Homo sapiens: one gene and its partners. Each later gene encodes a partner of the first gene's protein in a complex. Each region holds a gene or a part of one and is shown in the gene's direction. Other genes may lie near its edges.

Region 1 (8,234 bases):
TCAGCCTTTCAAGAAGGAAAGGCTTTCTTTCCTACTGTCTTTTGATACATTTCTTTCCTACTCTGTTTGATACATCTGTGTTCTCCCTTTGATTAAAGAGGAGCTGTTCAACTTGAACCTGGGGTTGAGTACTCAGATCTGCCTATATTCCTAAAATAGCAAAGATCCTTACCCAGAAAGAAATGACATTAGACCTACAAAAATTAGCCGGGCGTAGTGGCACACGCCTGTAATCCCAGTTACTCGAGAGGCTGAGGCAGGAGAATCGCTTGAACCGGGAGGTTGCCGTGAGCCAAGATCACACCACTGCACTCTAGCCTGGGCAACAGCGTGAGACCCTGTCTGTCTCACACACACACACACACACACACGTTAGAAAATGAAAAGTGAGGCCAGGTGTGGTGGCTCATGTCTAATCCCAGCACTTTGGAAGGCCAAGGCAGGTGGATCACTTGAGGTCAGGAGTTTGAGATCAGCCTGGCCAACATGGTGAAACCCCATCTCTACTAAAAATTTAAAAAAAAAAAAAAAATTGGCCAGGCATGGTGGTGCATGCCTGTAATTGCAGCTACTCAAGAGGCTGAGGTAGGAGAATCGCTTGAACGTGGGAAGTGGAGGTTGCAGTGAGCCAAGATCATGCCACTGCACTCCAGCCTGAGTGATAGAGTGAGACTCCGTCTCAAAAAAAAAAAAAAAAAAAAAAAAATGGGCGGGGCACGGTGGCTCAAGCCTGTAATCCCAGCACTGAGGCCGAGGTAGGCGAATCACGAGGTCAGGAGAGATCGAGACCAGCCTGACTAACATGGTGAAGCCCCGTCTTTACTAAAAATACAAAAATTAGCCAGGCATGATGGCGTGCGCCTATAATCCCAGCTATTCAAGAGGCTGAGACAGGAGAATCACTTGAACCCGGGAGGCAGAGGTTCCAGTGAGCCAAGATCATGCCACTGCATTCCAGCCTGGGTGACAGAGTGAGACGCCATCTCAAAAACAAAAAAAAAGTGATTTTCTGAGAGCAGGGGAGGTGACAAGTCAAAGAGGCAGACTGGACTGTATAGAGTGTTATGTGAAGATACGTGCAGTTAATTGCCTTGTTCTGATAAGGCCTCAGCCACCTTGGCCTGAAACATGAAAGTACTCCCTCTTCAAACCCTTGATGACTAATTCAGGCCTCGTCAGCCATTTCCATTCTTATTTGCCAAAGACAGCTTCACTCACTTCTACCAACTCATATCTCAATTTTTGCAGCATTTTCCTGGGTGGCCTTCCTGACTAGAACCTAATTTCCTGTTCTGTGTAAGCTTACTGGCTTTTCAGAATCTGAATGCAGCTCATTTTGTATTCATTGCTTCCCAGTAAAATTGTAATCTCTGAGAGAACAGGGAGTGATTCTTATATCCCCCCACCGCAGCCCCCAACGTATCTCACACTGAATACATAGTAAACATTTTGATTATATGTTCAAGAATATGAGCAAAGTGGCCAGGCACAGTGTCTCATGCCTATAATCCCAGTACTTTGGGAGGCCAAGGCAGGAGGATCTCTTGAGCTCAGAAATTCGAGGCCAACCTGGGTAACATAGCAAGACCCCATCTCTACAAAACAATTTAAAAATTAGCTGGGCATGGTGGCACAAGCCTGTGGTCCCAGCTATTCATGAAGCTGATGTGGGAGGACTGCTTGAGCCCAGGGGTCAAGTCTGTAGTGAGCCATGTTCAGGTCACTGTACTACAGCCTGGGTGACAGAGCAAGATCCTGTCTCAAAAATAAAAAGAATATGAGCCAAGTAAAATATCATTAACTGAGGATTGTGCATCAGAATTGAGCCAAAAAAAATTCAAAAATGTGTTTTTTGGTTTTTGGTTTTTTGGGTTTTTTGAGATGGAATTTTGCTCTTGTTGCCCAGGCTGGAGTGTGATGGCACGATCTCGGCTGACCGCAACCTCCGTCTCCCAGGTTCAAGCAATTCTTCCTCAGCCTCCCAAGCAGCTGAGATTATAGGTGTGCACCACCACACCCGGCTAATTTTTGTATTTTTAGTAGAGACAGGGTTTTGCCATGTTGGCCAGGCTGATCTCAAACTCCTGGCCTCAAGCGATCCGCCCACCTTGGCCTCCCAAAGTGTTGGGAGATTACAGGTGTGAGCCACCATGCCCAGCAAAAAAAAAAAAAAAAAAAAAAAAAATTGTTTTTTAGGCATAGTCTTACTCTTGCCCAGGCTGGAGTGGAGTGGCAAAATCGTAGTGCACTGTAACCTAAAACTCGTGGGCTCAAGTGATTCTCCTGCCTCGGCCTCCTCAGTAGCTGGAACTACAGGTGTGCACTACCGTGCCTGGCTAATTTTAATTTTTTTGTAGAGACAGGGTCTCACTATGTTGCCCAGGCTGGTCCCAAACACCTGGCTTCAAGCAATCCTCATCTTGGCCTCCCAAAGTGCTAGGGTTACAGGCATGAGCCACCAAACCTGGTGTAAAAAATCTTTATAATTTTATTTTTCTTTTCTTTCTTTCTTTTTTTCTTTTTTGATGGAGTCTCACTCTGTCGCCCAGGCTGGAGTGCAGTGGCATGATCTTAGCTCACTGCCACCTCCGCCTCACAGGTTCAAGCAATTCTTTTGCCTCAGCCTCCCAAGTAGCTGGGATTACAGACACACACCACCACGCCCAGCTAATTTTTGTATTTTTAGTAGAGACGGGGTTTCACTAGGTTGGCCAGGCTGGTCTCAAACTCCTGACCTTGTGGTCCACTCGCCTGGGCCTCCCAAAGTGCTGGGATTACAGGCATGAGCCACCATGCCCGGCTAAAATCTTTATGATTTTCCATCCCCCATGGATTAAAGTTCAGATTCCTTAATATGGCATTCAAGGACCTCCAGTAATTTGAATCCCCAAGCTTTACCCCCTTGCGCCTCAGTCCAACCCTTTAAGCATTCTGCTATGCTGAGTCAACTACTTGTCCTTCCCTACCTCTGTGTTCCTTTGCTGCTCTCATGTATTCTCTATGCCTAAAAACCCTTTCATTCTCTGACAAAAGGCAACTTGAACATGAGTTCAAGTGCAACCCATGTTTGAATCTTAGTTTTGCCATCTGTTGGCTGCGTAAACATGGGCAATTTACCTAAAACTCTTGTGCCACAGTTTTGTGTTTATAAAATGGGCATAATAGTACTTATTTCCTAGGGTTGTTATGAGTAACAATGATATACGACTTTGATAATCTGTGTATTTTTCAAGGCATGCTTGACTGTCTCTCTGCTGCAGTTATGTGTGTTCATGTCTTAACTCTTTCTGGGCTGTTTGTTAAGTCTCCTTGATGGCTATCTTTGGAGTTTTTAAAATATTTTATTTTTTATAATTTTAAAATAGAGACGAGGTCTCACTGTATTGCCTAGGCTGGTCTTAAATGCCTGAGCTCAAGCCATCCTCCTGCCTCAGCCTCCCAAAGTGCTGGGATTACAGGCATGAGCCACTATACCTGGCCTAATGGTTATCTTTGTATCCTTTATCAACACAGTGCCTTGAACAGAGTAAATACTTATTGAAAACTTGAGTGAAATGTAAGTTCATATTTGGCCTCACAGAATACACCAGTAATACAGCAATCACTCACCTGAGGACAGTGGGAGGATAGAAGGTAAGTAGAGGACTGGGTTAAGTATTCGTTCAAGCAAATACATTAATTACACGCCTCCCATGTACTTGACACTGGGAACTCAGCAATGAAGAAGGCCCAGACCAAAGTTCAGGCTTTTAGCTTCCTGTCCTATAAAGGATAAGATTCTTAACTCTAGGCTGAGGTAGTAAATTACGAGGGGACTTCAAAATGGTACAGGGTGGTTGAGCAGGATACGGCAATGGTTAAGTTTGATCAGAAAATAGAAATCAAAAGGAAAATGTGGCTATGGTTACCCCTAGCGGACCTCTTAAATCTTCCTGAGAACCTGCTTTTTTGGGAAGGCATGAGTGCCAGTAAGACTTGGCACTCCTCCTCTTCCGCTTACCGAGAGAAAATGACTTTGCCTTTCTGCTCAAAACTCATCCCTTCACTTTGTCACCCTATGTTTGCATCTTCCATCCTTAGTGTGTGTTTCCATCCAGTCTTTCAGCAATACACGTACTACACATTGGACTCTTGGGTAGTCTCTAGGGCTGTAGCAAGGAGCCTTGCTCCCAAGGGACTCATTTACACAATCCTGTGAACGGACCAAGAGTAAACAGTGTGCTCAATGCTGTGCCTACGTGTGTTAGCCCACGCGGCCAGCCTGAGGAGTCAGGGAAGGCTCCCCTAGGCAAAGCCCCCAACCAGAATCAAGTCTTAATGGTTAAAGAGCTCCATCACCCAAAAAGGATTGAGGGCCTACCTTCAACTGAACAGCTAATGCATAATCTCAGAAACTGTGAGTCAAAATTCCCTGGAATAACTCCACTTTATCCCCAATCTCCTTGCCACCTAGACCAAGGTCCATTCACCACCCTGTCCCCAGCACTGACTGCACTGCTGTGGCCACACTAAAGCTTGGCTCAAGACGGAGGAGGAGTGAGGAAGCTGCTGCACCAATATGGCTGGTTGAGGCCGCCCAAGGTCCTAGAAGGAGGAAGTGGGTAAATGCCATATCCAAAAAGATACAGAAGCCTCAGGTTTTATCGGGGGCAGCAGCTTCCTTCTCCTTCCCCGACCTGTGGCCAAGTCACAAAGCACCACAGCTGTACAGCCAGATGGGGGAAGGGAGGAGATTAGAACTGTAGGCTAGAGTAGACAAGTATGGACCAGTTCACAATCACGCTATCCCAAGCAGAAAGTGATGGTGGCTTGGACTAGCACGGTGGTAGTAGAGATGGGGTAAAGATTCAAGAGACATCATTGATAGGCAGAACCAATAGGACATGGTAATAAACTATTCTCAGGAAAGGGGAGGAGTCATGGCTTTCAGCCATGAGCATCCACCCTCTGGGTGGCCTCACCCACTTCCTGGCAATTCTAGCCACCATGAGTCCAGGGGCTATAGCCCTTTGCTCTGCCCGTTGCTCAGCAAGTTACTTGGGGTTCCAGTTTGATAAGAAAAGACTTCCTGTGGAGGAATCTGAAGGGAAGGAGGAGGAGCTGGCCCATTCCTGCCTGGGAGGTTGTGGAAGAAGGAAGATGGCCAGAGCTTTGTGTCCACTGCAAGCCCTCTGGCTTCTGGAGTGGGTGCTGCTGCTCTTGGGACCTTGTGCTGCCCCTCCAGCCTGGGCCTTGAACCTGGACCCAGTGCAGCTCACCTTCTATGCAGGCCCCAATGGCAGCCAGTTTGGATTTTCACTGGACTTCCACAAGGACAGCCATGGGAGGTGAGCCGTAAGGGAAGTTGGGGTATTGGGAGAGAGCAGGACCCCTCCCCATCACTGCTTCTGGGGGCTTCGAGTTTCCCATTTGCGATAGCAGTTGAGCAAGGTGACTTGTGGGGCCTATTCAGGTTGATTTCTTGTCAAGAATGTTGGGGTCCAGGGGACTGGCTCAGGTGAAGGTATAAGGGCAGGGCACATGTGGGCTGATGGGCACTGAAAACTACAGCAAGAACAAAGGGAAGACAAGAGTTGATGCTTTATTTTTTCCCCAAGGGTCAGTTGTATGAACCACTCCACCCTCAACACCTTGAAATGCAGAGAGGAGGCCGGGCGCGGTGGCTCATGCCTGTAATCCCAGCACTTTGGGAGGCCGAGGCGGGCAGATCACCTGAGGTCGAGAATTCGAGACCAGCCTGACCAACATGGAGAAACCCCGTCTCTACTAAAAATACAAAAAAAAAAAAAAAAAAGAGACCAGGCACAGTGGCTCACACCTGCAATCCCAGCACTTTGGGAGGCAGAGGTGGGCAGATCATGAGGTCAGGAGTTCAAGACCAGCCTGGCCAATATGGTGAAACCCTGTCTCTATTAAAAATACAAAAATTAGCTGAGCGTGGTGGCACACTCCTGTAGTCCCAGCTACTCGGGAGGCTGAGGTAGGAGAATCACTTGAACCCGGGAGGTGGAGGTTGCAGTGAGCTGAGATCATGCCACTGCACTCCAGCCTGGGTGACAGAGTGACACTCCGTCTCAAAAAAAAAAAAATTAGCCGGGCGTGGTGCCGCATGCTTGTAATCCCAGCTACTCGGGAGGCTGAGGCAGGAGAATCGTTTGAACCTGAGAGGCAGAGGTTGTGGTGAGCCGAGATCATGCCATTGCACTCCAGCCTGGGCAACGAGAGCGAAACTCTGTCTCAAAAAAAAAAAAAAAAAAAAAAGAAAGGAAATGTGGAGAGGAGCACATGTCCTAAATTGATTTGCAGAACTAAAGTTGTCTACCCTCCCGCACCTTGCATTTCTGTTCCATTTCCCTCATCTCCATCAACATTATAAATATTTGAAAAGAAGCAATAGGTCATTAATGATTAGTATTGATCAGGCTTCAGAATCAAGAGTGCCAAGATTAGAGTCTTGGCTCCTCCTCTTCATAGCGTGTACCCTGAGCTACTATTGTGAGAGACACTGTGCCCACCAGCTTCAGGGAGTGGCAATGGGTGGCAATGGCAGATAGCCTTCAAGTGTCAGCCACTTAGGGGATTTCCTCTGCTGAAGAGAGCCAGTTCACTCCAAGTCCCCTCCCAAGATGGCCCACATCCAGTGTCTGATCAATGAGAAGTGGGTGAGTGGGGAGAGTGGAGGCAGGTGTGGGGGAGGCATTTGATAAGGGTCCAGCCCTCTTTCATCAACTCTGACAATTCTTTTTTTCTTCTTCTTCTTTTTTTTTTTTTTTTTTTTTTTTTTTTGAGATGGGGTTTCGCTCTTGTTGCCCAGGCTGGAGTGCAATGGCACAATCACTGGCTCACCGCAACTTCTGCCTCCCGGGTTCAAGCGATTCTCCTGCCACAGCCTCCCGCGTAGCTGGGATTACAGGCATGTGCCACCACACCCGGCTAATTTTGTATTTTTAGTAGAGACGAGGTTTCTCCATGTTGGTCAGGGTGGTCTCGAACTCCCAACTTCAGGTGATCCACCCGCCTTGGCCTCCCAAAGTGCTGGGATTACAGGCTTCAGCCACCATGCCCAGACTTTTTTTCTTCTTTTTTTTTGAGATGGAGTTTCGCTCTCGTTGCCCAGGCTGGAGTGCAATGGGGTGATCTCGGCTCACTGCAACCTCTGCCTCCTGGGTTCAAACGATTCTCCTGTCTCAGCCTCCCGAGTAGCTGGGATTACAGGTGCATGCCACCATGCCCGGCTAATTTTTGTATTTTTAGTAGAGACAGGGTTTCACTATGTTGGCCAGGCTGGTCTCAAACTCCTGACCTCAGGTGATCAGCCTGCCTCGGCCTCCCAAAGTACTGGGATTACAGGCGTGAGCCACCACACCCGGCCAACTCTGACAATTTTGAAGGGTCATTCTAGTTCCAAAGCTCGTGGGGTGTTGGCGAATGCTGTCATTGGGCCTGAATCAGCTCAACTCCTTCCTGTGCCCACTCCTGCTGATTTCCCCTCCTATAAGTAGTGATCCCATTGGCACTACTTAAACATCCTGCAGGCTAAAAAAATATTATGGGCCAGACACAGAGGCTCACGCCTGTAATCCCTTGGCCTCCCAAAGTGCTGGGATTACAGGTGTGAGCCACCATGCCCAGCCTATAAAAAAATTTTTTTTAATTAGCCAGGCATGGTGTTGCACACCCGCAGTCCCAGCTACTAGGGTGGCTGAGGGGAGAGGATTGCTTGAGCCCTGGAGATCAAGGCTACAGTGAGCTGTGATCATGCTGCTGCACTCCAGCTGGGCAACAGAATGAGACCCTGTCTCAAAACAACAAAATTATTTTTTAAAATTATAGCATTGTTTCAAGAGCGTTTGTTATGTATTTGGCTGGGACCATGCTAACCGTTACTCGTATTTATTACATTTACTCCTGACAGCATTGACTGGTTGTGAAAACCAGTCATTGGTTATGAAATTGGTATTCCTATTTCACATATGGCAGAATTGTGATTTAAACCTAGATCTGCTAGGGTCCTCCTATCAGCACACACACTCCAGCCCCACTTTAGAGGTACCCGCTACCTTCCCTCATTAAAACCAGCTCTCAAGAGGGGATCTGGTAACAGTCTAGGCAGGCATTCCAGGGAGCATGTGAACCGCTGGTTCTTGTTGCGGGTGGAAGGATGGAGGTGTTGTACAGAGTTTAGGTCTTTTTCAGCAAAGATCTCAAACCCCTGGTGTTCAAATCAAACCAAA
Region 2 (7,191 bases), 2.9 Mb from region 1:
GTCTCCCTGTTTGGCAAATGGGCTAGCTTGTGGATCTGGAGTGTTGTGTCAATGGAGCCTAAGGCTGTTTGGAGAACCTAGAAAGAAAATTCATCAGCTTCTCAGTCTTGGTAACAAATAAATAGAAGGCAAGAGAGAATGGGAGGGAAATGACGTCAAAAGTAGAAAGAAATTTATGGATAAGGAAACCGAGAAATTACGATTACAGAAGGATCGATTCCATTGTTGGCATTATTGTCTTCATCAAGGCCGTGCATCCTGCAGGGTGAAAACAGAAGAAATGAAGTGCTAAGGAATATAAAAGAGTGGAAATGACATTTGTTGGACACTTTTATAGTCTGTAAATGGATAACTTGTGCCTCTGTTTGACACTTTGGCTTAAAACTGAATGGCTTATTTATTTAATCGGTGGAGACTGTGCAAATCCATGTATTAGAATAACTTACAATGCTGGTTGCTGAGCCTGAAAAGGTGTGAATTTACTTTTTAGTTTTCAAAGTTACGGCCAGGTGGGGTGACTCACTTCTGTAATCCCAGCACTTTGGGAGGCCAAGATGGGAGGATCACTTGAGCCTAGGAGTTTGAGTTCAGCCTAGGCAACATAGTGAGACCCCCATCTCTACAAAAATTACAAAAAAATTAGCTATGTGTGATGGCGCATGCCTGCAGTCCCCAGGACTACAGGGAGGCTGAGGTGGGAGGATTGATTGAGCCTGGGAGGTTGAGGCTGCAGTGAGCCATGATTGTGCCACTGCACTCCAACCTGGACAATGGAGCACAACTGTCTCTAAAAAAAAAAGAAAAAGTTTTGAAGTTATATGATGTGGCATTCAACCTTCTATCTGGGTTGTAAGGTTCCCAGGCAAGACATCAGCTATTAATTAAACACACTATTTTGACTGGGGGCAGAAATGCTCCTGTCTTGCATGATCTATCAATTTATTGATGGTTCAGGGACCTTAACTTACTGATGGACTTTTGCTTTATTGTTACTTTAGGAAAGTGTTAAGTATAAGGTGATAGTAATAGCAACTCGAGCCTCGCTCTGGTCTAAGTGCTTTGTGTGTATGAACTTACTTAAGTCTCACAACTCTTATGGGATATGTGCTATCCTGGCCCCTCTTTCATAGGTTGGATTGAGAGGCTTGCCAAAGGTCCCATGACTAGTACAGAGGGCACCTGGGATCTAAGCTCAGGGAGTCTTGTTTCCAGCTCAATCTCTTATCTTCTAGGTTAGCTGGATGGGGGTAATGTTGATGGGGAGCTTCAGATAATTTGAGGATTTTGGAGTCTGAACTGTCTGGGTAACTGTGGTTGTATGGAACTGGCCTTGGCATACCACTATCTATATTTGTCCCCTCTCTTTCCTCCCAATTCCCATGCTGCCTTTTCCATGAAGGTGTCTGCTTAAATTATCTCCCATCCCTCCCCAGTATGAAGACCACCTGCTTGCCCATGTTTGGCTACAAACACGTGCTGACGCTAACTGACCAGGTGACCCGCTTCAATGAGGAAGTGAAGAAGCAGAGTGTGTCACGGAACCGAGATGCCCCAGAGGGTGGCTTTGATGCCATCATGCAGGCTACAGTCTGTGATGTGAGTTTGGAGGACTTGGAGTGCCAGGTGTGGCTGGCATAGATCAAAATGGGAAAGGAAGTGACTGAACTCTGGGGATTTCTGGTGTAAAATGAGATGAGAACTAAGCAGGGCTTCCTGCAGTTATGAGTAGTAAGTTGCTCCTGATATTCAGCCTTGGCTTAGATCCACTCCCTGGCCTGAGCTGACATTTCTTTGAACCTCAGTGGTCTCAGATGTTCCCAGGGGAGAGCATCTTCCCATCTTCAGAGTTACTTCAGAGTTAAGGCTGAGTTAACTTAACCTCAGCAAAGTAGGCAGATGTTCAGATGAGATTTCTTCTAGCCCAGATCAGCTCTGTGGATGCACGTCAGTTTCTAGATGAGCAATGTGACTGTCATTAGAAGAGTTAAGTTTGGAGTTTAAGAAGATCTCATTCAGCTGCTTGAACTAATCAGCTATGAGACTGTTTTCTGAAGAGAATGAAACTCCTGAACTGGAAAGCTTCAGCTTCGGTTCCAAGGACTGGGACTGAGACCCTTGTTTTGAAGAAAAATAAGCTGTCCAGCCCTTTAGCCAGGGAGCACCTTGGGTCTCTGTTCTCTACCAGTGACATGGCTGAATTTGTTTTGTCTCCTCTGCCTTTGTTTTTTGTTTTCTTTTAACAGGAAAAGATTGGCTGGAGGAATGATGCATCCCACTTGCTGGTGTTTACCACTGATGCCAAGACTCATATAGCATTGGACGGAAGGCTGGCAGGCATTGTCCAGCCTAATGACGGGCAGTGTCATGTTGGTAGTGACAATCATTACTCTGCCTCCACTACCATGGTGAGATCTCTGGCACCACCTATGGTTTCTATTCATGATTGTGAGGGTTGCCCTAATCTAGGCAGAGTCTGTGTGAATATGAAAATGGCAGCCCCTCCTTCTGGGCAGGGTGCAGGGCTCGGTTCCAGCTTGCCCCTATCCCTTACCAACTGGACACCGTCATCCAGCATACAACCTATATAACCATTAGAGATGTCCCTGATTGTGGTGTTATCACTGCCTTCACTGTCACCAGCATAGCAGCAGCATCATGGGATCCAGAATGGACCCAAAGGATTTTTACAACCCAGCTGGAAAGCAGGTCTTCCTCTCCACTCTGATTAGCCCTTTCTTGGAATACCATACTAACTTGTGGTTATTGGAAGAAGACAGAGGAAAAAAAAGAGAAAGATTGGCCAGGCATATGATGGCTCATGCCTGTAATCTCAGCACTTTGGGAGGCTGAGGTGGGAGGATCACGTGAGTCCAGGAGTTTGAAACCAGCTTGGGAAATATAGTGAGACCCTGCCTCTACAAGAAAATGCAAAAATTCGTTGAGTGTTGTGGTTTGTGCCTATGGTCCCAGCTACTTGTGGGGCTGAGGCAGAAAGATCTCTTGAGCCCAGTAGTCTGAGGCTGCAGTGAGCTGTGATCTTGCCACTACACTCCAGCCTGAGTGACAGAGCAAGAACCACCCCTGCTTTTTTTTTTTTTTTTTTTTTTTTTTTTTTTTGATACAGAGTCTTGCTTTGTTGCCCAGCTGGAGTGCAGTAGTGCAATCTTGGCTCACAAGCTTCACCACCTCAGTCTCCTGAATAGCTGGGACCACAGGCATGCACTACCATGCCCAGCTAATTTTTGAAAACAGGGTCTTTCTATGTTGCCCAGGCTGGTCTCAAACTCCTTGGCTTAAGCAATCTGCCCTCTTAAGCCTCCCAAAGTGCTGGGATTACAGGTGTGAGCCATTGCTCCTAGTGGAGACCCCTTCTCTTAGAAAGAGAGAGAGAGAGAGAGAGAGAGAGAGAGAGAGAAAGAGGGGAAAGAACATAAAAGGCATGGTGAACAGGTCCTACGAGGAAAGATTAAAGGGCCAGAGTCATTTAGCTTGAAAGAAAGAAGGCTAAAGGATGATTTAGCTTATACATGAGAAAACTTCTTATAAGTTGTTTTATATGGCCATAGAAGGTTAAACAAGAGGAAAATATTTAAATTGAATCAGGAGAAATTACTATAAGCCATAAGAGAAATGTGCTGTAATGCTCTAGGTATCTGGGGCAGGTGTGAACTCTTCGTCTCCTAAGGACAATATAGCAACTTCCTCATCTAGGTGACTTAAAGGTGTACCTGTGTAAAGGCAGGAGACTGAGCTGAGGATCTAATGAGCTCCCTGCAAGGTCTAGGATCCCATGGACATGTTCACGATTCACCACCGCCCCCGCACAGTGTCCTTGAGTTCCTTGGTGTCAGCCATATCCAAGTCAAGCACTACCAGACAATGAGTCAGCAACATTTGACCCCTAATCTATGCAAGGCACTGGGCCAGGGGCTGAGGGAGGTAACAAGACTATGTATGGTTCTATCCTTGGGGAGTTTTTGGTCTACTTGAGGAGAAAGGATATATATATTTACAATAACACAAGATGCATGATTAGTGCCAAATGGGTGTGGCACAGCCAATGTGGCTATACGTATCCAAGGGAGGAAAGGTCATCATGAGCTGGGATGGCCAAGGAAGTCTCCTGAAGAAGGTGGGGGCTAAGCTAGGCCCTAAGAAAGGAGGAGGATTACCAACAAGAAGGCCACTCCAGGTGGGAGACAGTGGGCCAGATCACTGCTGAGTGGAAGAGGGAGAGAGGTGAGCAATATTTGGAAAGAAAGACTGAGACCACACGGTGGAGGATCACGAGGGCCAGGCCAAGGCATTTGTCAGTAGTTCCAAAACAGAGGCCTAACCCAGTCCCTTGTGCACGGAAGCAGCTCCATAGTATTAGTGCATTAAATTCAAGCAGGAAGAAAGAGGTGCTTAGTTTTGACACCACTGGCCTGTACCTCTTCGTCTATCCCTGGAGTTCACAAGTAGACTTCTGTGCTACTTACCCTTCTTATCTCACTGTCACCCCCCTTTTTTTTTTAGAGACAGAGTCTTGCTCTGCTGCCCAGGCTGGAGTGCAGTGGTGCAATCATAGCTCACTGTAACCTCCAACTCCTGGGCTGAAGTGATCCTGCCTCAGCCTCCCCAGTAGCTAGGACTATAGGCACTTACCACCACATCTGGCAAATAAAAAAAATTTTTTTGTAGAGATGGGGTCTTGCTATGTTGCCCAGGCTCTTGTCTCACTTTCAGCATGAAGTGAAATGGTTTAAGCACCACCACACTCTGAGCCACAGCCCAAGCAAGATAAGTTCTAAGCTTTAGACCCTAGAGATGTACATGAGACGTCATTAACCTCTACATCCTTCATTTTCCTAGGATTATCCCTCTTTGGGGCTGATGACTGAGAAGCTATCCCAGAAAAACATCAATTTGATCTTTGCAGTGACTGAAAATGTAGTCAATCTCTATCAGGTGACTGTGCCTTCGGGCTTCCTGGAGTGGGCCCTGTGATGGTGGGTGCCCCAGGTAGCCAGCCTGTGCTAGCATTGGATACAGTCCCCAATCAGGAAAGAGTCTCCCCTAATCCACTCCCCAGGAGCTAAAGATTGCACTCTGGGCCTTTTTCCTGCAATCTTGAACTTACTAGGTATGTGTTGGTGTTTGTGGTGGTGGAGGGGAGGTGGTGAGGGGTGTGAGAGGTTTCCTCTACTTTTGCTCAGGGCTGAAAAACTGCTAGATATATTCCTGGCAGTGACAATTGAAATATCCCGTACCTTCCTCCAATCTTCATCTCAGGACTCTCAGTGGGATTTGGGGAGGGCTTTTGGAGACCACCAGCTTCCTTTGGTAAGCTCTGGACATCTTTGTTTTCCTTTCTAGAACTATAGTGAGCTCATCCCAGGGACCACAGTTGGGGTTCTGTCCATGGATTCCAGCAATGTCCTCCAGCTCATTGTTGATGCTTATGGGGTAAGTGTCTTGTGCTGGGAATAGTCCCGCGGAGAGTCCACCTCATTTGGCTTACACAGCAGGGCTCAGATTTGTGAGTCCCAGTTGCCAGTCTACCACACGGTCTTACTGCCTTCTCCGTGTGCTCCCAGAGCCCAGGCAATGGCCCGCTCTAGAAGGGATGCAGCCTTCTGAGAAGGAAGGAAGGAAGGAAGGAAGAGAGAAAGAAGGAAAGAAGATGGGGATGGGGATGGTGATTAGATGGAGAAGGAGCAGAGCCCTGGAATTGTGGGGGCAGAGTGAGGGAAAACTGGGCTCCAATAACAGGGAAAAGAGAGAGCTGAGACATGGGGAAGGTGAGGTTGATGAAACATTAGGTAGAAAATGCCACTTTCCAAGGTGACCAGTATTGGCACTCCCCTTTTGCAACATCTGTGAGGCCTGCAGGAGGGTGTAGCTGGTACATTTTACCCAGACTCACCTAGACGCAAGTGGAGATGGAAAGAGGGAGCAGGTTCCTGCGCAGGAAACAGAGTCCTAGGGGTGCTCCGGCAGCTTCCAGGTCAAACCTTGGCCTCTGGCACTGCTGGGGTGAGTCCAGAGCTACTTGCCAGATTTGGCTTGGGATGGAACTGGCTCTTGCCATTTCCCGTTTCCTTTCAGTTCAATTTCTTGTCTTCTTGTGCCCCTTTCTGCTCAGAAAATCCGTTCTAAAGTAGAGCTGGAAGTGCGTGACCTCCCTGAAGAGTTGTCTCTATCCTTCAATGCCACCTGCCTCAACAATGAGGTCATCCCTGGCCTCAAGTCTTGTATGGGACTCAAGATTGGAGACACGGTGAGGTGGGCTGGGCAGGGCCTTTGTCCTGGAGCATCTGTGGGCACCCAACCCCCTTTCTTCCTTTTGTAGTGACTAAAAATGGCCCCCTTCCACCAGAAAAAAAATATGGGCAAGAAAAATACGTTTCCTGAAAGTCATTCTAAGTTAGATGTAATGGATCCACCAATCTTTTCCTCTGAGGCTTCTGTTGCGTAAGCCATTTCTGTTACGTGAACTTCACTCTCAGGAATTTGAAAAACTTACAATTTGGTTACCTTTGTTTGTGTATGCACAGTTGATTGCAAAGGAAAATATTTCTTTACCTTCAGTCCCTCACCAGTCGCCAGCCTTTCCAAGGTAATTAATACCTTTCTTTTGTAAAACGACACAAGAAAGTAAAATCTAAAATGTAAAACACTCCAGTCTCTCCACGACTTTCCTTATTGGTCGTTTCTCCTCCGCTTCTGCCTAAGGGGAGAGGGGTTGGTGGGAGGGGAGGAAGGAGGGGAAGAAAATAGATCTTTGGATACGCTGATCCTTTCTATTGACCTATCTGTCTCTCAGGCACTTGTGCAAACATCCCATGTTAGAAATATTGTCCTGAAACATGCTTTATTGCATAAGCTATGAAATGTGTGGGAACTGAAGTAGATCCTGAGCTTATGATTGACCACCATGTGGGATTGTGTGGTGCAAAATAGTGCTTTGTGCATCTTGCTGATAATTATAATCAGGCCAAAGCAGGGTGTTTATATGATCACAGGTTCTGTTCAGTTTGAGCTGGTCTATTTCATATGTGGAGTGAAAAAACAGCCTTTTATTATTTATTGACTGTAAACCATGTCTCTGCATCCAGCTAGATATGTCACAACGATACTATTCCCGTGCTTGTGTTTTTGCTTTGCAGACCTTCATATAGGGAAGGCTGAGGAACTCCAGATTGCAAA
Region 3 (7,232 bases), on another chromosome or scaffold:
CTGCCACACAGGATCCCGAAGGCAAGCCGAAGAAGACACACATCCAAGACAACCATGACGGCACGTATACAGTGGCCTACGTGCCAGACGTGACAGGTCGCTACACCATCCTCATCAAGTACGGTGGTGACGAGATCCCCTTCTCCCCGTACCGCGTGCGTGCCGTGCCCACCGGGGACGCCAGCAAGTGCACTGTCACAGGTGAGCCCGCCCGCTGTTGGCCGCTGCGGCGCTCGGCACGGGGCTTGGGTTGTGCCTGTGTGCAAGGGCTCGCTGCTTGGGGCGGCGTGTGGGAGTGGGGGCCGCCCCCTTGAGTGACTCACCTGACCTTTCTCCTTGCTCTCTGCCCTCTCACCTCAGTGTCAATCGGAGGTCACGGGCTAGGTAAGCTGCTTGCTGGGGCCACTCCCAATGCCCCTCCTGCCCAGAGGGGCAGCTTCCTTTCCTCTTGGGGCCGATTCCCAGGACAGTTCCAGCTGCAGCTCTAGGCAGGGACAGAGTTGGGTGGGGTGCAGAAGATGAGGCCGTGGGCTGGAGGGCGAGGGCCCAGGGAGGCTTCCGGAGCTGAGCATGACCGCTCCAGCTCTTCCCCTCTCTGGGCCTTTATTTCCCCATCTGAGAACTCGGGTTGCAGCTGAGAGCTTTGGGGTGAGGTGCATCCTGAGAGGCACCCCACTGGGGACTTTGGGGTCTCGGGATCTTGGCACCCAGGGAGGCACAAGGGCTCCTGCGTGGGCTGAGGGAACAAGGGGTCTCCCCAACTCAATGGGAGCCCCAGCCCTGGCCAGATCCACAGACCCCCATCCCCACCTTCCAGGGGCCTCTGCGTCCCGGGCCGGGGGAGGTGCATGAGCGGGTGGGGCTGGCTGGTAGTGCAGTAGCGCCAGTGTCGACTGCTTGGGCGGCCAGCATGGCGGGGCCCGGCCCAGCCTCAGAGCCCCAAAGTGCATTCTGTGGCCCGTCTCCCTCCTTCCCCCTTCCCCTATCCCCCAGCAGTGACGTTATTCAGACATTCCCCAACAGGCATGGAGGGTCACCTGCCCCAGCCAGGGACACCCAGGGATGCTGATGAGAGGCTACAGGCCTGGCACTTGGGCGAGGTGGCTAAGGAAAGGGTGAGAGGGTGGCTAGAGTTTTGCGGCAGGAGCGAGATGGCTTTATAGAGCAGGCCGTAGGATCCGATGTGTGTGTGACAGGCGTGTGTGCGCAGGGCGGGGGAGGCTGGGGAGTACTGATTGCAGGGCCTTGGGGGCTTTGAGGGTGGGAGCAAGACTCAGTAACCTCAGTTTCCCTGGCTACTGTTTGCAGAATGGAGACAGGGAGCCCGGGGTGGGGAAGGGGGCGCTGAAGTTGCTCTCTGGCAAGCTTGACGGCCACGGGGCTTCAGTGAGAGCCAAATTAGGAGGCATACTTTGAGGATGGAGTGGCTGAGACCTGCGGTTGGCTGGGAGCCGGGCAGGGAAAGTGGGGGCAGTCGGGTACCTGTGAGGTTGGGGCCCAAGCCACTAACTAGATGGCATGGGGTGCACATGAGTGAAGCCTCCCAGGGCAGCGTGGGCAGCCGGCAGCCAGGTCTGGAGCCTGGGAGAGCTGCCTGGCCGCGGCAGGCCAGCATGGAGCCTAGTGCAGCAGGAGCCCTCGGCCGATAGTGGGACTTGGTGGCAGGGCCCCTCGAGCTTGGCCTTCAAGTAGGTTTCGTGCTCCTGGCTGCTTCCCTGGCAGGAGGCCAGGCTGCAGGGGGCACTCTCACTGCCAGGCCTCACAGCCCACAGCCCCCCAAGCCTCCACGGCGGAGACCCAGATCATAACGTCACTGTCTCTCCCCTTTCCTCGGGCACTCTGGGGCCCTGGAGCCTGCTCAGCTGCTCTGCCCTCGCAACCCAGCAGTGGTGGCTGTAGCTTGGGCCTCCTGTTCCCTGTCTCCCTGGGTGCTATCCCCGCTCTGCCAAGCCTGCTGCGCTGCGCTACTCGGGTGCTAACCCCGCTGCCTCCCGCTTCCCCGCTCCCACTCCTGTCTGCACCGGGCTGCTTTTCACCGCGAGCCTTCTCAGTTGTCAGGAAACTCCGGTTTCACCATCAGGCCTGGGGGGTGGGGAGGCAAGTGTCACATCCCCCCACGCTGCAGCAGGACTCCGCCTCACCGCGTCCACACACAGCAATGGGGGCCGGGGCCAGGCCAGAAGGGCGCAGGCAGCCGTGTGCCCAGCCAGATGCTGGCGTTCAGCAGTGTGGGCCATGGTGCTGGACGAGGCTGAGTAGGCAAGGGAGTGGCTGTCAACACTTAGGCTGGAGTGGGCCCTTCCTTTTCCTCCCAGGCACCTGGGTGCTACTGTCGGGCCTCTCCCACATGGGCACTTGAGGTGGTCAGGAGAAACCTTCCTGCCTTCTGAGAAACCACTCGCCATCCCAGCTTGGAGGGGCAGGGCGGGGCAGGAGGCCTGGCGGCCTGGCTGTGCTTGGTGGTGGCAATGAGAGGCCTGTGTGGGCGGCAGGCGGACGGGAACAACCTGAACCCGAGCTCACACGCTGGCCCCCCTTTGGGGACCCACCCTGCCCCACCAGGTGCTGGCATCGGCCCCACCATTCAGATTGGGGAGGAGACGGTGATCACTGTGGACACTAAGGCGGCAGGCAAAGGCAAAGTGACGTGCACCGTGTGCACGCCTGATGGCTCAGAGGTGGATGTGGACGTGGTGGAGAATGAGGACGGCACTTTCGACATCTTCTACACGGCCCCCCAGCCGGGCAAATACGTCATCTGTGTGCGCTTTGGTGGCGAGCACGTGCCCAACAGCCCCTTCCAAGTGACGGTGAGGAGGGGTGGGGGGTAGGTCAGCAGGGGTGTCTGGCAGGTCCCGGCCTGTTCCCCTGGGGCCCCTCTGTGACAACAGACTCTCCAGCAGCTCTCTGCTTTGCCCTGCAGGCTCTGGCTGGGGACCAGCCCTCGGTGCAGCCCCCTCTACGGTCTCAGCAGCTGGCCCCACAGTACACCTACGCCCAGGGCGGCCAGCAGACTTGGGTACGGCCTGGCCAGCTAGGGACACTGGGGCTAGCCAGCTGGGTGTTCTGTGAGCCCCTAGTTTACCATGTGTGAGGAGGGACCCCAGATCCTCCCACTGTCCCTCACCCATGCCCTGTGTCTCCACTGCAGGCCCCGGAGAGGCCCCTGGTGGGTGTCAATGGGCTGGATGTGACCAGCCTGAGGCCCTTTGACCTTGTCATCCCCTTCACCATCAAGAAGGGCGAGATCACAGGTGAGTGGGGACTTGGGAAGGAGCTCGGGAGCCAAGGAGGCCAGACTGTGCCAATGAGCTGCCCTGACCTCAGCCCCACTGCCCCACAGGGGAGGTTCGGATGCCCTCAGGCAAGGTGGCGCAGCCCACCATCACTGACAACAAAGACGGCACCGTGACCGTGCGGTATGCACCCAGCGAGGCTGGCCTGCACGAGATGGACATCCGCTATGACAACATGCACATCCCAGGTGGGCCTGCCCTGCCTCTGCCCACTCCACCGCCACCACCTCACAGAGAGATGGGGCTGGGGGACACACGAGGCTGCCATTCCACAAGGCCCTTCTTCCTGCCTCAGGAAGCCCCTTGCAGTTCTATGTGGATTACGTCAACTGTGGCCATGTCACTGCCTATGGGCCTGGCCTCACCCATGGAGTAGTGAACAAGCCTGCCACCTTCACCGTCAACACCAAGGATGCAGGAGAGGGTGAGCAATAGCTCTGGTCTTGACCTGCTCTGTGCCCGGGATGCCCTCACCGGGGTAAGGGCTGGACTCAGGAGATACTCCTGAATGGGGCTCCCTGCCCTGCTGCCCTGGCCATCGGAGCTCCTCAGTGCAGGCCAACTGGAGTGTCCCCAGCATAGTTCCCATGCTCACCCACGGCTCTCTCCAGGGGGCCTGTCTCTGGCCATTGAGGGCCCGTCCAAAGCAGAAATCAGCTGCACTGACAACCAGGATGGGACATGCAGCGTGTCCTACCTGCCTGTGCTGCCGGGGGACTACAGCATTCTAGTCAAGTACAATGAACAGCACGTCCCAGGCAGCCCCTTCACTGCTCGGGTCACAGGTGGGTGGCACTGGGAGCAGTGACAGAAACGGGTGGCAGGGTGGGCATGGTCTCCCATGGCTGGACGCACACTGATGGCTGGCCTGTCCCCACCAGGTGACGACTCCATGCGTATGTCCCACCTAAAGGTCGGCTCTGCTGCCGACATCCCCATCAACATCTCAGAGACGGATCTCAGCCTGCTGACGGCCACTGTGGTCCCGCCCTCGGGCCGGGAGGAGCCCTGTTTGCTGAAGCGGCTGCGTAATGGCCACGTGGGTAAGCGGCTGAAGGGTCCAGGGGGTTCAGAAAGGAGGCAGCCTGTGGGGAGCCATGCCCTCCCTGACTGACAGCCATGCCCTGTGTCCAGGGATTTCATTCGTGCCCAAGGAGACGGGGGAGCACCTGGTGCATGTGAAGAAAAATGGCCAGCACGTGGCCAGCAGCCCCATCCCGGTGGTGATCAGCCAGTCGGAAATTGGGGATGCCAGTCGTGTTCGGGTCTCTGGTCAGGGCCTTCACGAAGGCCACACCTTTGAGCCTGCAGAGTTTATCATTGATACCCGCGATGCAGGTAGGCAGTGGCTGCCCACCAGCTGGGGCGGGAGCACTGTGCATAGCACCGAGGCTCAGGGGTATCCATCCCCTAGGCTATGGTGGGCTCAGCCTGTCCATTGAGGGCCCCAGCAAGGTGGACATCAACACAGAGGACCTGGAGGACGGGACGTGCAGGGTCACCTACTGCCCCACAGAGCCAGGCAACTACATCATCAACATCAAGTTTGCCGACCAGCACGTGCCTGGTGAGTGCAGCAGTGCCTCGGCAGCCCCCCTCACTACACCAGGGCCCACAGGCAGTATGTGACTGGAGGGGCGTGGGCCGTGCTTTCTTCCTGCAGGCAGCCCCTTCTCTGTGAAGGTGACAGGCGAGGGCCGGGTGAAAGAGAGCATCACCCGCAGGCGTCGGGCTCCTTCAGTGGCCAACGTTGGTAGTCATTGTGACCTCAGCCTGAAAATCCCTGGTAGGGGCTGTGGGAAGCCTGGGGAGGGGTCCTGGGGCTCAAGCAGCCCCAAGAGGAGGGGTGGAGCCCAGGGCTGCTGCTCACTAGCCCATCCCCACCCTGCAGAAATTAGCATCCAGGATATGACAGCCCAGGTGACCAGCCCATCGGGCAAGACCCATGAGGCCGAGATCGTGGAAGGGGAGAACCACACCTACTGCATCCGCTTTGTTCCCGCTGAGATGGGCACACACACAGTCAGCGTGAAGTACAAGGGCCAGCACGTGCCTGGGAGCCCCTTCCAGTTCACCGTGGGGCCCCTAGGGGAAGGGGGAGCCCACAAGGTCCGAGCTGGGGGCCCTGGCCTGGAGAGAGCTGAAGCTGGAGTGCCAGGTAGGCCTGCTCACACCCCGAGTGCTCGCTCTCCTGCGTTGGCCAGGGTGGGGTTGGGGGTGGAGGAAAGAGCCGGCAGGCATGTCTACCTTGGCTATGCCTGGAGGGGGCCGAGGCTGGTGAAGCAGCCTTCAGTGAGGACAAACTGTTCTCCCACAGCCGAATTCAGTATCTGGACCCGGGAAGCTGGTGCTGGAGGCCTGGCCATTGCTGTCGAGGGCCCCAGCAAGGCTGAGATCTCTTTTGAGGACCGCAAGGACGGCTCCTGTGGTGTGGCTTATGTGGTCCAGGAGCCAGGTACTGGGAACCCGGCTGGGGTTGGAGGAGGTGGGGCCTGAGTGTGGGTATTGGACCCAGGGCTGGCACAGATAGCCCTGCCTGGCACTCACTCTTCACTTTGAGGTCACAGGGCCACCCAGGCTGTTCGTGGGAGGTGGGAGGCCCAAAGGCTGATGAGCCGGTCTTACACTCTTTCCCTGCCCAGGTGACTACGAAGTCTCAGTCAAGTTCAACGAGGAACACATTCCCGACAGCCCCTTCGTGGTGCCTGTGGCTTCTCCGTCTGGCGACGCCCGCCGCCTCACTGTTTCTAGCCTTCAGGTGAGGCACCGAGAGAAACCGCCCACCTGGGGCTCCTGGGCCCGGACAGACCAGAGCCACCGCAGAGACCAGGCCTTGGCCCTGTGTTCAGTGACCCCCCTGGCCCAGCTCTGGGTTCCAGGCCTCTGCTCTGGCCGGGTGCAGCCCACGCTTGGGGTCGGCAGGAAATATCCTGCCCACCACGTGGAGTTTTTCTCGTGTCTCAGGTCTAAAGGCTTTGAACAGAAGCCTGTGCCCCTTGAGCACCAGGGCTGCGGTTTAAAGAGGGACAGCCTGCCAAGGCTGGGTGCTGCCCACAGGGTGGGGCAGCCCTCCCTTCCTGCCACCTGGGTGTGTGCGACGGCAGAGTGTGGGGGCAGGGGCGGGGATGTGCGCCTGTGGCTTGCTGCCCCTTGCAAATCAGTGGCTCTCCCTCTTTAAACCAAGTTGGACGCCAGATGGGTAAGTGCGACCCGCGGGCCTCTTGCTCCTGGGGCCTTTCCGTCCTCCCTTGCCCTGGCTCAAGCACCCCCATCTAACCATGTCTGCTGTGCTTCCAGGAGTCAGGGCTAAAGGTCAACCAGCCAGCCTCTTTTGCAGTCAGCCTGAACGGGGCCAAGGGGGCGATCGATGCCAAGGTGCACAGCCCCTCAGGAGCCCTGGAGGAGTGCTATGTCACAGAAATTGACCAAGGTGAGGCCCTGTCCCTGCCCGGCCGCCCTGCCCTGCTGGCTGGAAGCAGGCTGAGAGTACAAAAGGAAGGTACCGCTTCTGTAAGCAGCCAAGACGGGGCCCCAACTCCTGGGCCCCCTAAGCCAGGCAACCCTTTCCCAATTGGTGACCCAAGCCGCTGGGGATGTGGCTCGCCACCCACAGCTATTAGGAAGGCCTTCTACCCTGCAGTACCATGCCATCTCCACAGGGAAAGACTCAAAGTCCAGCCTCAGTGCTGCCCGGCCCTTCAGCCACGGCCATGGTACTTGTGCACAGGCCTGGGGCAGCCTTGTGGGTAGGAGGAGCCCAGTGGGCTTCATTTCACGGCCTAGTCCTGCCCTTCCCAGCTGCATGACCTGAAGCAAGTTCCTGCCCGTCTCTGAGCCTGTTAACATGCAGGGGATATGGTGTTCACGGTAACCTTTCTTAGGAGGCAGCAAGGCCTGGGTTTGGCTTGTAAAAGATTTCCGTCCCAATGCACCCTG

Evidence for each region.
Region 2: the proteins of ITGA2B (region 1) and ITGB3 are in contact, whole or in part, in a cryo-EM structure (PDB 8GCE), measured with the Homo sapiens proteins. Residues at the interface, in NP_000410.2 of Homo sapiens: Gln49 (codon at 5,284), Phe52 (codon at 5,293), Arg72, Trp141, His143, Asn145, Glu152, Ala153, Glu154, Lys155, Pro157, Arg184, Phe191, Tyr197, Glu199, Phe202, Pro217, Tyr221, Phe222, Phe262, Asp263, Tyr265, Tyr268, Thr290, Trp293, Thr294, Gln315, Met316, Ala317, Tyr319; in NP_000203.2 of Homo sapiens: Ser188, Pro189, Tyr190, Tyr192, Ile193, Ser194, Pro195, Pro196, Tyr204, Asp205, Met206 (codon at 1,435), Arg242 (codon at 1,543), Asp243 (codon at 1,546), Pro245 (codon at 1,552), Lys279 (codon at 2,301), His281 (codon at 2,307), Ile282 (codon at 2,310), Ala283 (codon at 2,313), Leu284 (codon at 2,316), Asp285 (codon at 2,319), Arg287 (codon at 2,325), Leu288 (codon at 2,328), Ala289 (codon at 2,331), Gly290 (codon at 2,334), Val292 (codon at 2,340), Gln293 (codon at 2,343), Pro294 (codon at 2,346), Asn295 (codon at 2,349), Asp314 (codon at 4,855), Tyr315 (codon at 4,858).
Region 3: the proteins of ITGA2B (region 1) and FLNA are in contact, whole or in part, in an NMR structure (PDB 7SFT), measured with the Homo sapiens proteins. Residues at the interface, in NP_000410.2 of Homo sapiens: Trp1019, Lys1020, Val1021, Gly1022, Phe1023, Phe1024, Lys1025, Arg1026, Asn1027, Arg1028, Pro1029, Pro1030; in NP_001104026.1 of Homo sapiens: Thr2263 (codon at 5,631), Gly2267 (codon at 5,643), Ala2268 (codon at 5,646), Gly2269 (codon at 5,649), Gly2270 (codon at 5,652), Leu2271 (codon at 5,655), Ile2273 (codon at 5,661), Ala2274 (codon at 5,664), Val2275 (codon at 5,667), Glu2276 (codon at 5,670), Gly2277 (codon at 5,673), Ser2279 (codon at 5,679), Ile2283 (codon at 5,691), Phe2285 (codon at 5,697), Asp2287 (codon at 5,703), Arg2288 (codon at 5,706), Lys2289 (codon at 5,709), Gly2291 (codon at 5,715), Cys2293 (codon at 5,721), Val2295 (codon at 5,727).

What each region holds. Positions count from the first base shown.
Region 1 is NC_000017.11:44,386,379-44,394,612, reverse strand, and holds the start of ITGA2B (integrin alpha-IIb preproprotein), read left to right. Parts: upstream 1-4,963; 5' UTR 4,964-4,986; coding exon of another isoform or gene 4,987-5,139; coding exon 5,140-5,327; intron 5,328-8,234. UniProt on the Homo sapiens protein: Integrin alpha-IIb/beta-3 is a receptor for fibronectin, fibrinogen, plasminogen, prothrombin, thrombospondin and vitronectin. It recognizes the sequence R-G-D in a wide array of ligands.
Region 2 is NC_000017.11:47,284,827-47,292,017, forward strand, and holds part of ITGB3 (integrin beta-3 precursor), read left to right. Parts: intron 1-1,433; coding exon 1,434-1,596; intron 1,597-2,243; coding exon 2,244-2,405; intron 2,406-4,854; coding exon 4,855-4,950; intron 4,951-5,358; coding exon 5,359-5,448; intron 5,449-6,127; coding exon 6,128-6,262; intron 6,263-7,191. UniProt on the Homo sapiens protein: Integrin alpha-V/beta-3 (ITGAV:ITGB3) is a receptor for cytotactin, fibronectin, laminin, matrix metalloproteinase-2, osteopontin, osteomodulin, prothrombin, thrombospondin, vitronectin and von Willebrand factor.
Region 3 is NC_000023.11:154,350,403-154,357,634, reverse strand, and holds part of FLNA (filamin-A), read left to right. Parts: intron 1-11; coding exon 12-201; intron 202-360; coding exon 361-384; intron 385-2,562; coding exon 2,563-2,810; intron 2,811-2,923; coding exon 2,924-3,019; intron 3,020-3,151; coding exon 3,152-3,254; intron 3,255-3,343; coding exon 3,344-3,484; intron 3,485-3,591; coding exon 3,592-3,720; intron 3,721-3,907; coding exon 3,908-4,081; intron 4,082-4,177; coding exon 4,178-4,339; intron 4,340-4,430; coding exon 4,431-4,634; intron 4,635-4,710; coding exon 4,711-4,863; intron 4,864-4,959; coding exon 4,960-5,082; intron 5,083-5,187; coding exon 5,188-5,454; intron 5,455-5,613; coding exon 5,614-5,751; intron 5,752-5,938; coding exon 5,939-6,054; intron 6,055-6,593; coding exon 6,594-6,726; intron 6,727-7,232. UniProt on the Homo sapiens protein: Promotes orthogonal branching of actin filaments and links actin filaments to membrane glycoproteins. Anchors various transmembrane proteins to the actin cytoskeleton and serves as a scaffold for a wide range of cytoplasmic signaling proteins.